Linked DNA regions of Homo sapiens: regions 2, 3 and 4 are each linked to region 1. Evidence: fine-mapped expression QTL. A gene starts in region 1. Each other region holds a variant in brackets. All regions are shown on one strand. Distances are from middle to middle. Region 1 holds the start of DYSF (dysferlin). Region 2 overlaps DYSF (dysferlin). Region 3 overlaps DYSF (dysferlin). Region 4 overlaps ZNF638 (zinc finger protein 638).

Region 1 (2,687 bases):
AGGGTCATGACTACAAAAGGCACCACTCAGGCCGGCTGTGTTACTCTCCAACACAGCACTGGTTGGGGGCAGGTGTGGAGGAGGCGGAGTTGGATTCGCCAGGGTTATGGCTTAGCCCTGTGAGAATGCTGTATCCCTCAAAATAAGAGAGGGGAAAGGGAGTTGAGATTTTGCGCAGCAGTGCGTTTAGGCTGAGTGAGCAGGTTGGTTAGTGAGGACTTGGGCGGTGGGAAGACGGACAGTGCCCTGACAGGGGCTAGGTGCTGGAGTGCTGGGGGATAGAAGTGCGAAGCCAGGGCCCCTGTGTCAAGAAGTTCATACGCTGGAAAGGAACCAGACATAATAAGCGAAACGACTGTCACCGTTCATGGCTTACACCTTGAACAGCTTTCCACTGTGGAGACTAGGGAGTGTAGAGATTGTTGGGGATGGGGGACTTGCAGGGGACAGAATGGGCCGCAGCTGGACCCTAGTTCTCCAGGGAACGCAGTATGATTTGAATACAGATCTCTGCCTCCAGAGATGAGTGACTCGACACCGCTGCGGAGAAGGCTCCGAGGAGGGTTGGTGGGGACTCGAACCTCGGAGTCTCTCCCGACCCGGGGGTCCCAGCAAACCAGAACGGCCACCTAGACAGCCTGCGGACGGGAGAGGACCGGCTCCCTGGCGCAGATCATGGGGCAGGTGGAGAGAGGCGAGAGGCAATGAGGCGGGGGGCTCGGGGTGCACGGCACGCTCCGCACACTCCCCCTTCAGCGCTCACTCAGACTTGGTTTCCCCGAAGACACACTCTCGTCCCCGCCGCTGATTGCCCACTCCTTCCGCCTGCACTCCTGCCTCCTTCTCACCCTTTCGTCGAGCGCACAGGGCGGCTGCCAAGTCGGCACCGGTGCGCACCGGGCCCGGGATCCCTGGCTGGTGTGGAGCCTTGGTCACCGGAGGCCCCCGCGGAGCAGGCCCCACGGCGCCTTGTGCGCTCTCGGAGGCCGAGCTGCGCGCCCGCGTCAGCGGCGCCTCGTTCCTGGCCGGGAGCTGGGACCCGCGGAGCTAGGGACCAGCACCCCCACAGGCGCCCGTCTGACCCCTGTCCCTCCCCGCCCGCCGCGGGCAGGGCGGATCTGGGTAGGGGCCGGAGGGGGAGGGTCCGCCCAGCGGGTGTCCGGTGTCCTCCCTGCAGCCTCTCCCAGGCATTGGTCACTTCTCCGCGGAGGAGCAGCGAAGGCGACAGCTCTCTTGGCGCGGCTGCCTGGGAGCCGGGCGCTTGCTGGGTGGGTGCTCGGGCCCGGTGCTCCCGCTCCCGCCCTGACTGCGCGCCTGTGTGCCGCCGGGGCTGCCCAGCCATGCTGTGCTGCCTGCTGGTGAGGGCCAGCAACCTCCCCAGTGCGAAGAAGGACCGGCGCAGCGACCCTGTCGCAAGCCTGACTTTCCGAGGTGAGAGCCCCGTGGCTGCCGCGCCCATGCTCGGGTGCTACCCGACTCTCGGCGCTCACTGGCGGGTCTGAAGCCCCTGCTCCGGAGCTAACCCTAGTCCAGGCCACAGTTTCTCCCTTTGTCAGCAGGGACGGAAATCCCAGCCCCGACTTCTGCAGGGGGGCGATGAGGAATAAGCAGAGCACAATAAATGCCACAGGGCTTTGAAAAATTGGAAAAGCGAAAGTGCCGTAGGTCAGCGGTTATCACTTTTCTAAGACTGACACCCAGAGGAAATAAAGTCCGAGCTTTTACTGGGTAGTGGGGATAAGGGTAAGTTGGAAGATGGGTGCAGAAGGTAGAGAGGAATCAGGGCCTCTGAAAAACGGGGCGTGTAGATGATGTGCTTTGAAAGTTGTGTCTTTTTTCATTCATTCATTCATTCATTCACCCATCTTTATCCAACATTGGCTGTATTGAATCTGCCCCGTCTTAATCAGTAGGAAAAGGAACAGAATAGGATGGAAATGGCCTTGACACAAGGAGTTTTGAGGAATGTCAAGGATATTTTCTCTAAATTCAAGAAGCTAAGTCCCTACATGTAGTGCTTAGAATACATACAGGTATTTCTGTGTGGGGCAGCAGAGAAATCACACACACACTCCTCTTCTCACCAGGCGTCCTGAACCCCCTCCCCCAACCCCTCCAAGGCAGATTCCCACTGGAGCGGGTGTCTCAGGAGGGGAAAGGGAAGAGGAAGGATCTGTCAAAATTAAGAGAAGGAACAATAGCTGTGAGTCAGGACCCCAGTTCTGCAGAGAAAGATAAATCAGGAGAGGAAAGAGGGTTTCCACTTAGCCAGGAGCCATACCCTGTAGCTTTGTGGAATCGATAATAATAATAATAAAAATCTACGTATCAGAAAAGATAGTCAAATGAAGAAGGAAGAGTAGCTGGTGTTTTCATAAGCCTCCTTCAGTGCAGGCACCAAGGGAACTCTTTTCAGTCTGACCCATGATCTGAATCATATCTCCAAGCACCCCCAAGATAATGATAGATGAAAGACATGATTTGGCAAAGGGAGATTTATGTGTAGCTTTTATTCTTTGCTGTGGGACAAGTTATATGTATTCCTCTTTTGAAAGATGTGATTTGAAACGTTTAAGAAAATTTCACTATTTTCATTGATTGGTGACATGCCTGGGAGTTCACTATGCAAGAGCAACTTCAAGACAAAGTCTTTCCTTCTCCAGTGTCCACCTGATGCTGCCTAAGGC
Region 2 (2,687 bases), 64 kb after region 1:
TCATTAGGGATGATCGCCTGATCACACAGTTAAAATGGTGCCTCCAGACAGCTCCCTTATAAATCTTCCCACTTTGTAATTAGCAAGTAAACTGTGGGTGATATCTTGGCACTGTACGGATGTCCTACTTCTCAGCTACCTCTTATCTAATGGTCTAAGCATCCATTGACCTTCCTGTCTGAAGAAGTCATTTAGTTGGGACTGCAAAGTGGTGATTTTCTCATTATCATTCTTTTTCTCTTGATTAGCCAACATTTTTTTCTGTAAAGAAGAGCTTTCTCCCTCCGCTTCGTTGAGTATTAGTATGGACCTCAATACTTTTTATTTCTAATGTTAAATCAGTCATTATTGTGTTGATGTATGAATTATACTGAAGGTGGCCATCAGGAGCCCCTTTGAGCTGGGCTCTCTCTCCTCAGAGACTAGCACAGGGTCCCAGTGAAAATGTACACGGGGATGTAATGCAGATTTTAAACTCGTTCATGTGGAGGTGTAAATGCTTACTGCAGATCCTCACCTGAGTGCAGGTTTTGGTGTAGACTCAGGGTCCAGGTCTTACGCCCTGCGCCTGGCATCAGGAGGAATGGGGACAGCTGCTTGAAGGTAGGAAGGAAACAGGAAGCTGCGGCTGTACGTTTTTGTGGGACACTAGCTCCAAGGACTAGGATTAATTCTTCCACTTGACACTTGGGGGAATTCACGTCCTGAGATTGTTCTTATTTCGCATTCCCAACATGGAAGGTATTTCGATGGTGGCTAGAACCAAGACCGACATGCCTTCACATTCATTGGAACTAAGCCTCAGAGCTCCGGGGCTCCGGGCTGCTCCTGGGTCCCTGCCAGCATCTTTGATCTCCCTGGGTCTTCTGTTCTGAGATGCCCTTGGCTGGCCCTGGGGATTTCTTTAGGAAGGTACCAGTGTCTAGGGGGAGGTGAAAGGACAAAGGCAGCCAAGGCAAGGCACTGTATACAGTAGATTGGCATCTGGGCTCATGCAAGAAGCTGCGCCTCCCATTTTTCCTCTAGAAGGAGGTGGAGGGAGTTGAAGAATGACCTTATGGTGAAGGAGGCAGCTGGAATGCTCCGTCTTGAAAGTTTCAACCTGGCCAGCCTCCTCGGTGGACCCCAGGCCTTTGCGTCCTCTCTGCCCTAAGCCACCTCCTTGTGGCGTCCCCGCTTCTGCTGCTCTTATGGC[G/A]TGTCTCATTCTGCCTGTCCCTCTCTTTTAGCCTGCTTGCATGTCCCTTTTCTCTCTTTACACCCTAAGCTGAAGAGCCCTGAGGTTACATTCTGTGTACCCACCCACCCCAGCTGGCCTTCTTTGCATTTCCCCTTATGGACACCTGGTGGCAGTATTATCCAAGATGTGAACCATACTTGATTTGGCCAAGTTCCTAAGAAGATAGGAGTGTGGGAGAGTGTGTGCGACTGTGCACTTCATGGTATGGAAGAAAGAAAAGGTCCTGCCCTACTTGTAGGGCAGGACAGGAAGATTTAAAACAACTTTTTTTTTTCTGAATTCAAGAATAAAACCCATTAATTGCAAAAAATTGAAAAAAATCAGAGACAAGGAAAACAACAAAAACTCCCACTGCACCATATTCTGTACCCTGCACCACCCTGGAGAGAATTACTGATAACATTGGTTTGTATTACCTACCCTGTTACCTCCCCTCTTCCCACTTGCTGGGAAAAAATCATGAAAATATTGATTTTCCTTATTCAAGGATTCTGTATTTGCCAATTTGCCTACTCACTAAAATGTATTTGCAAGCCCAAAATCAACACTCATGGCACTTTAGTGATGATTTGTGGACACTTTCAGGGCTTTGAAAAATTTGAGTCTCCCAGCGTGTATGTTGGTTGCTGAGGTTGAACAAGGTGACTCTCTGCCTCCCCGCTCCAACTCTCATGGAGTAAACATGACATGTCCATGATCAAAGGACATGTATTTACTCCACGAGAGTTGAAACAGGGAGGCAGAGAGTCTCAAAACATGGTACTGCACAGGACACGTATCAAAGGACACAGACAAAATGTGTGTCCTTTGATATGTGTCCTGTGTAGTCTCATGTTTTTCACATTTTTGTGCCTTTTCTTGGCGACTTCGCTGTTTAAAATGGCCCCAAATGTCGTGCTGAAGTGCTGTCTGGCGTTCCTCAGCTCAGAAAGGCTGTGATGTGTTTTATGGAGGAAGTGCGTGTGATAGGTAAGCTTCTGGCAGGCTTGAGTCACAGTGCCGTTGGCTGTGAGTTCAATGCTGATGACTCAGCAATGTATATTAAAAAGTAAGGTGTCCTTCAACAGAAGCACACATAAACCAAGGTTACGTATTGATCAGTTGACAAAAACATTGTGACAGAGGCTGCCAGGAATTTAACCCTGCTTCTTCTCTGAGGTAATGAGTCAGCATTCACTAATTCAGGGTTCATGGTGACCTTATAGATCATAACTACCATGAATAATGAGAATCAACTATATACATGCAGTTTGGTAAACTGCTTGTGTTGTCTCATCTTTTCTTAGGTTATTAAAGAGTCATTGAAATGATTTTTTTTGATGGCTGCATAATATTCTGTCAGATGAGTATACCATAACATTTGACCTATTTTTTGGACATATATAATTCAAATTTTCCTCTTTTATAAACAACATTGTGACAAACATCAGCATACAGGAATCTTTGTCCA
Region 3 (2,687 bases), 37 kb after region 1:
TGGCTGGGCCTCTGGGGAGGGGCAGGAAGGGGTCAAGGTGGACCTTGGAGAAGGAAAGGTATCTCTTATCCCTTCCCATGCCCAAGTATTTCCCTAGGGGCCAGGCCTTCCAGGGATGGTGCATGGTGGTGACTGGGTGTGGGGGTGCAGGAGAGCCCTCGTGGGGTGCTGGGTGACTGTGTGGTCTAGGCAGACCAGCCTCATCTGAGTGGTGGCAGTGAGGGGTCTGGCAGAAGAGCCAGGGTGCCTTAGGCTAGTTTTCTACATTTGACTTCTCTCTCCTCTCAGGTTCCTGGGGGAAGCCAAGGTCCCACTCCGAGAGGTCCTCGCCACCCCTAGTCTGTCCGCCAGCTTCAATGCCCCCCTGCTGGACACCAAGAAGCAGCCCACAGGGGTAAGTGCCCATCAGCCTCTGCCAGGTTAAGGTCCAAGGCATTGCCAGGTGGCTTCCTCTTTGGGCCTTGCCATTCTGACCCCAGACATGCATCTGACTTCAGCTCCCTTGAAGCAGGCCTGGCCCTCCCTGACCAGAGTTTGCAGTGTCTGGAGGGGCACTGGACTAGGGGAGATGGGAAGGGCAGAGGGAGCCCTGACCCCACCTGCAGGGCTCAAGTCAGCCTTGGCTCGCAGCAGCTTGGCCTGCCCCTTGGTCTGGTGCTGCCGGTCTGGCCACCTCCTGTCCCCAGCTTCCTGGTCAGCCTTGGCTATAGCCCACCTAGTCTCCCTGGCAGACCTCCCCTCCTCCCTCACCATCCAGCCCTCTTCTCCAGATTCAGAATCTCTGAACCATCTGGGTCACAGGGCATGAGGGATGGAGGGAAAGAGCCCTCTCCCCTGCCCACCAGGACCCTCTTCCTTTTCCTCCGTTGTTCTTCCTGCCCCTCCCTGGCCTTCTCAGTGCTCCCCCCAAGTCCAATCAGACAATTCCCAGCCCTCCTCTCTGCCTGTTATTTTTAGTGAGCTAAATATACCCTGTAGGGTTCTCTCTTCTTGGTAGAATTCCTGACCTCTCCTGTGGGTTAGCCCCGCCTTCCAGGATGTACCAGGAACCATGGATTGGAACTACTTCCGCCCTGTGAGGCCTGGGGGATTCAGGCCCTGACTTGTCTCAGACAGGGCAG[T/C]GGTACTGCCCCGTGGCGGGTGTGTGAGGCCGGGGCTCCTGGCTGGCTGGGTGAGTCAGGAAGTAGCCGGTCTGGGCAGATCTCTGAATGGAACGAGACTGGATGCTGAGACCTAGAGAAAAGGAACCACTGAAGTCACATAGTCAGTGGCTGTTCCCATGGGGGCCTGGACCAGGAGCTCATCCCCTAGACCCTCTGGTGGAATGGCTGTGGATGGACTCCTGGTTCACTGAACTCTCAGTCTGCTGCCCTCTCGGTGCTGGACTTTGCTCCCAAGGGGTCTTAGGCTGGGGATGGCTGGGCTGCTCCCTTGATGGAAGATGTCACTTCCCAGGAAAGTCCATCTGTTTCCCACACAGGGCTCACTGGCAGAATGTTCTGGTTTAGAGCAGTATTCACTGAGCCTGTCTCCATCACCCTGAGTCCCCTCTCATCCTCCGTTTCAGCCTCCTGTCTCTTAACACTCCCTGTGGTCAAGGAGGACCCCAAGGAGTTCTGGAACTACCCCTTCAGGGGTCCTGAGGAGGCTCAGACCCAACCCTCAAGGCATGGGACACAGATGGAGGGATGATAGGTATCAAGGCAGCTGGCGAGAGAAAGCCTTGGGGTCAGGCTTGGTTCTCACTTCCTTGCTGGGACACCAGCATCTCTCCACTCCAGCTCTGTGTGCATCCATGACTCTGGTGTTTCCTGCCCTTCGGTCCCTTCCAACCTCAAAGGCCTGTCCAGCCCCGAGGCAGAGTTTTCCATAGCTGGTCCCTATTCATGAGCCGTGTCAGGCTGGAGCCATCCCCTCCATACCTCCCTTCGCCTCCTCCTGCTCCTTGTTCCCACACTGTCTGGGCTTCATGTTTACCAGCGGGGAGCCTGCTGCCTTCTCTTCCCTGGCTGGGGATTCCTGGCTGTCTGCAGAGCTTTACAATCCTTCACCAACCGTGTCTCCAAAAAGAGTGTGTGAGATCCAGGAGGTGGCGGATGGGAGAGAGTGCTGGACCCTGCTGGGTTGAGCCCCACTAGCTGAGCACAGGCTGGAAATGGAGTTGGGGAGCCTCCTCCCTGTTGCCCAGGAGGCAGTCCTCACCTGTACAGAGGGTCTAGGACTAGATTCTAGTCCATGTGATGGCATTAAGGTCACAGTGCAGCCCCAGACAGGTCATATGTCCCTTTGGGCTGGGGCTTCCTGCCTGGGACCTGGGCTGGCTGCACTGTAGTGCGAGGCAGGGATAACTGGGGGTGTGCTGGGCAGGGACAGACAGCCAACAACATTGAGGGTTCTCGCTGGCCGCTCACTGAGACCTCATTTCTGAGCTAAGCCCAATCAGCAGAGCATGCCAGGTGCCCCCATTTCATTGTAGCTCTCAGTTGCCTCTAAGGGCCAAAGAACCTGCTGATGGGGTGATACGAGTGAACACAGAGCCAGTGGGATCCTTAGGAAACTCTGGCAGACTGAGAGGCGTGGGGGAGGCCGGGAGTCCTGCCGCAGGCTGACTGCAGACCCCGTTTGCCTTTTGCTCAGTGTTCTCACCCAAGTCCCTTCAGATATAGCACGCTGGGCTGTGTGCCATG
Region 4 (2,687 bases), 94 kb before region 1:
TAACTTGAAGTGGTCCCATTTGTTCATTTTTGTACAGCATTTGCCTGTGTTTGTGGGGTATTACTGAAGAAATATTTGCCCAGACTGATGTCCTGGAGAGAGAGTTCCTCCAGTGTTTTCTTGTAGTAGTTTCATAGTTAGAGATCTTAGATAAAAGTCTTTAATCTATTTTTATTTGATTTTTGTATATGGTGAGAGATAGGGTTCAGGTTCATTAATGCATATGGATATCCAGTTTTCCCAGCTGGTACCTCCCTAGGTTACATGCCATCCCAGCCCACTAGCTCTAATCCCAGCCCCAGCCCTAAGAGTTGCCTAGGAGTTGTTGTCCTTGTGTCCTAGACTACCTTTCAGGTTTACCTAGCACCCTGGAGCACTTTAGCCCATGGTAGTGAGACTTGCCAAGAAATTCAGATTCTTATTGCCGGGATGGATGAGTCCTCTTTGGCTAGGTCTGGTCCAAAGGCTCCTTCAGTGCATGGGTGCTGGCTGAGTACAGCATGGCTTTGCTGTCCACTGTGACAGAGCAGCACTGAGTTCAATGTAAAGTCCCCTAGTTACTGCGCTGTCCCTTCCTAAAGTGCACAGACTCTGTCCATGTTGTGGGGCCAGATTAGGGAGGTGTGCTGTCAGGGATTTAAGGCTGTCTCTGCTACCCTCGTCAATGCCTCTTTCAGTGATACAAAGTCAAAACCAGGTAGTATGAATGCTCACTTGATATTTGGTTCTTGTGATGATGCTTTTCTGTGTGCAGATAGTCGTTAAAATTTGGTGTTCCTGCTGGGGATGGGATGAACAGTGTAGGGTTCTATTCTACCATTTTGCTCCACCCAGCTATGTGTTCTAGTAATTTAATTTTTCTACTAGCTGTGGAATGGCTACTTTATAGAGGTTCTATAACACACATTTCTCAATAATTTGATTTGGTAGTCTAACCATGTTAGTGCATTCCTCATTCTTTGTAACTTCTCTATAGTGTTTCTCTGTATGAATATACCACAGATGTATTACCAATTCCTTACTGATTGATATTTAGGTTGTTTCTAGAAACAGAACTTTAGTTAACACCTTGTGTACCTTCACAGGCCATCTTTTGACATTTATGATAGTGGTTTTTTAGGTGATACCTACCCAATGGAATGGTTGGTTTATAGGATGCACAGTAATGGATAATATAAGATTGCTCACTAAATAACTGTTATAATTTACTCCCTGGTAATTTATGAGAGTATTACCAACAACATCTTAATTTCTTCAGCTTTAAAAATTCGTTATATAGAAAATGATATCTAGTTTTAATTTGCATCTTTTTGATTATTCATTAACTTCATCTTTTTATATAATTGTTAGCTATATCTATTAACTGTTTAAGTGAGTTGTCTGTATCTTTTCCTAT[TTTA/T]TTATTGTTGTCTTTTTAAAAATATTCATTTGAAGGTGCATGAATATTGTGCATTCTAGACACTAATTTTGCATTGTATGTAAGAAGTCTTTTCTTACAGTCTGTTGCTTGTGTTATGCATACATATATCAAGTTTGAATTTTTTTTTTTTTTTTTTTTTTTTTTTGGCGGAGCCTCTCTCTGTCGCCCAGGCTGGAGTGCAGTGGCACCATCTCGCCTCACTGCAAGCTCCACCTCCCGGGTTCACGTCATTCTCCTGCCTCAGCCTCCTGAGTACCTGGGACTACAGGTGCTCGCCACTAACAGAGATGGGGTTTCACCATGTTAGCCAGGATGGTCTTGATCTCCTGACCTCGTGATCCGTCCGCCTCGGCCTCTGAAAGTGCTGGGATTACAGGCGTGAGCCACCTCGCCCGGCCAAGTTTGATGTTTTTATGTACTCAAATTTATTGGTATTCTATGGCTTCTGCATTTTTTTCTTTATTATTTTTATGCCTGTGACACAGCCTCAGGAGGTTCTGAGGACATGTTCCCCTCTTTTTGAGACAAGGTCTCACTCTATCACCCAGGCTGGAATGCGGTGGCACAATTTCGGCTCATTGCCACCTCCGCCTCCCAGGCTCAAGTAATCCTCCCACCTCAGCCTCCTGAGTACCTGGGACTACAGGTGCAAGCCACCGCGCATAGCTAAGTTTTAATTTATTTTTTGTAGATATGAGGTTTCACTTTGTTGCCCAAGGTGATCTCACACTCCTGGGCTCAGGTGATTCTCCTGCCTCGGCCTCCCGAAGTGTTGGGATTACAGGCATGAGCCACTGTTTCTGGCCTGCTTTTTTTTCTTTTGTCTTTTTAAGAACTTGCCTGTGCTAGTGCCTAAAAGGTTTTATTCCTTAATCTATTATTTGCAGCATAATATAGGATTGGAATCAGTATTATTTCCAAAATGGGAGCCAGTTAGCCTCAACACTATTTATGCCTAATTTATCCTTGTTGATTTGAAAAGCTTCTTTTATGTGTATAAATTCTGTATACATAGATGTGTTTCATACTCTTCTGTTGTGGCAATACTATGTGGTTTCTGTTACAACAATTACTATAGCTTCCTAATATTTCCCTGTCTTTCTTGTAGAGTTATTTTTCTTTGTTTATTCATTTTGGTTAATGTTTTTCCTCTTTATTTAAATTCATTTTGTTTAATCTTGAACATTTACTCCTGCACATTAGTTTTAGAATCAGTTTAAGTTCTCTTAAAAAAAACTTACTGGAATTTAATTAATACTGTGTTGAA

What was found.
Region 2: its variant is fine-mapped to the expression of DYSF in whole blood (TOPMed, PIP above 0.99).
Region 3: its variant is fine-mapped to the expression of DYSF in tibial nerve (GTEx, PIP 0.96).
Region 4: its variant is fine-mapped to the expression of DYSF in blood mononuclear cells (TOPMed, PIP above 0.99).

Annotation. Positions count from the first base shown.
Region 1 is chr2:71,465,503-71,468,189 of GRCh38, forward strand. It overlaps DYSF (dysferlin), which reads left to right and starts at 1,197. Exons shown (of 56, transcript NM_001130987.2): 1 at 1,197-1,431. The coding sequence starts at 1,341.
Region 2 is chr2:71,529,579-71,532,265 of GRCh38, forward strand. The region is part of intron 14 of DYSF (dysferlin); the gene reads left to right. Among named protein-coding and RNA genes, the nearest start is that of DYSF, 64 kb to the left of the region's middle. The variant G/A (reference allele first, on the strand shown) is at 1,196.
Region 3 is chr2:71,502,926-71,505,612 of GRCh38, forward strand. It overlaps DYSF (dysferlin), which reads left to right. Exons shown (of 56, transcript NM_001130987.2): 4 at 289-394. Among named protein-coding and RNA genes, the nearest start is that of DYSF, 38 kb to the left of the region's middle. RefSeq lists an enhancer at 382-881 and a silencer at 2,574-2,687. The variant T/C (reference allele first, on the strand shown) is at 1,122.
Region 4 is chr2:71,371,900-71,374,586 of GRCh38, forward strand. The region is part of intron 8 of ZNF638 (zinc finger protein 638); the gene reads left to right. Among named protein-coding and RNA genes, the nearest start is that of ZNF638, 41 kb to the left of the region's middle. The variant TTTA/T (reference allele first, on the strand shown) is at 1,397.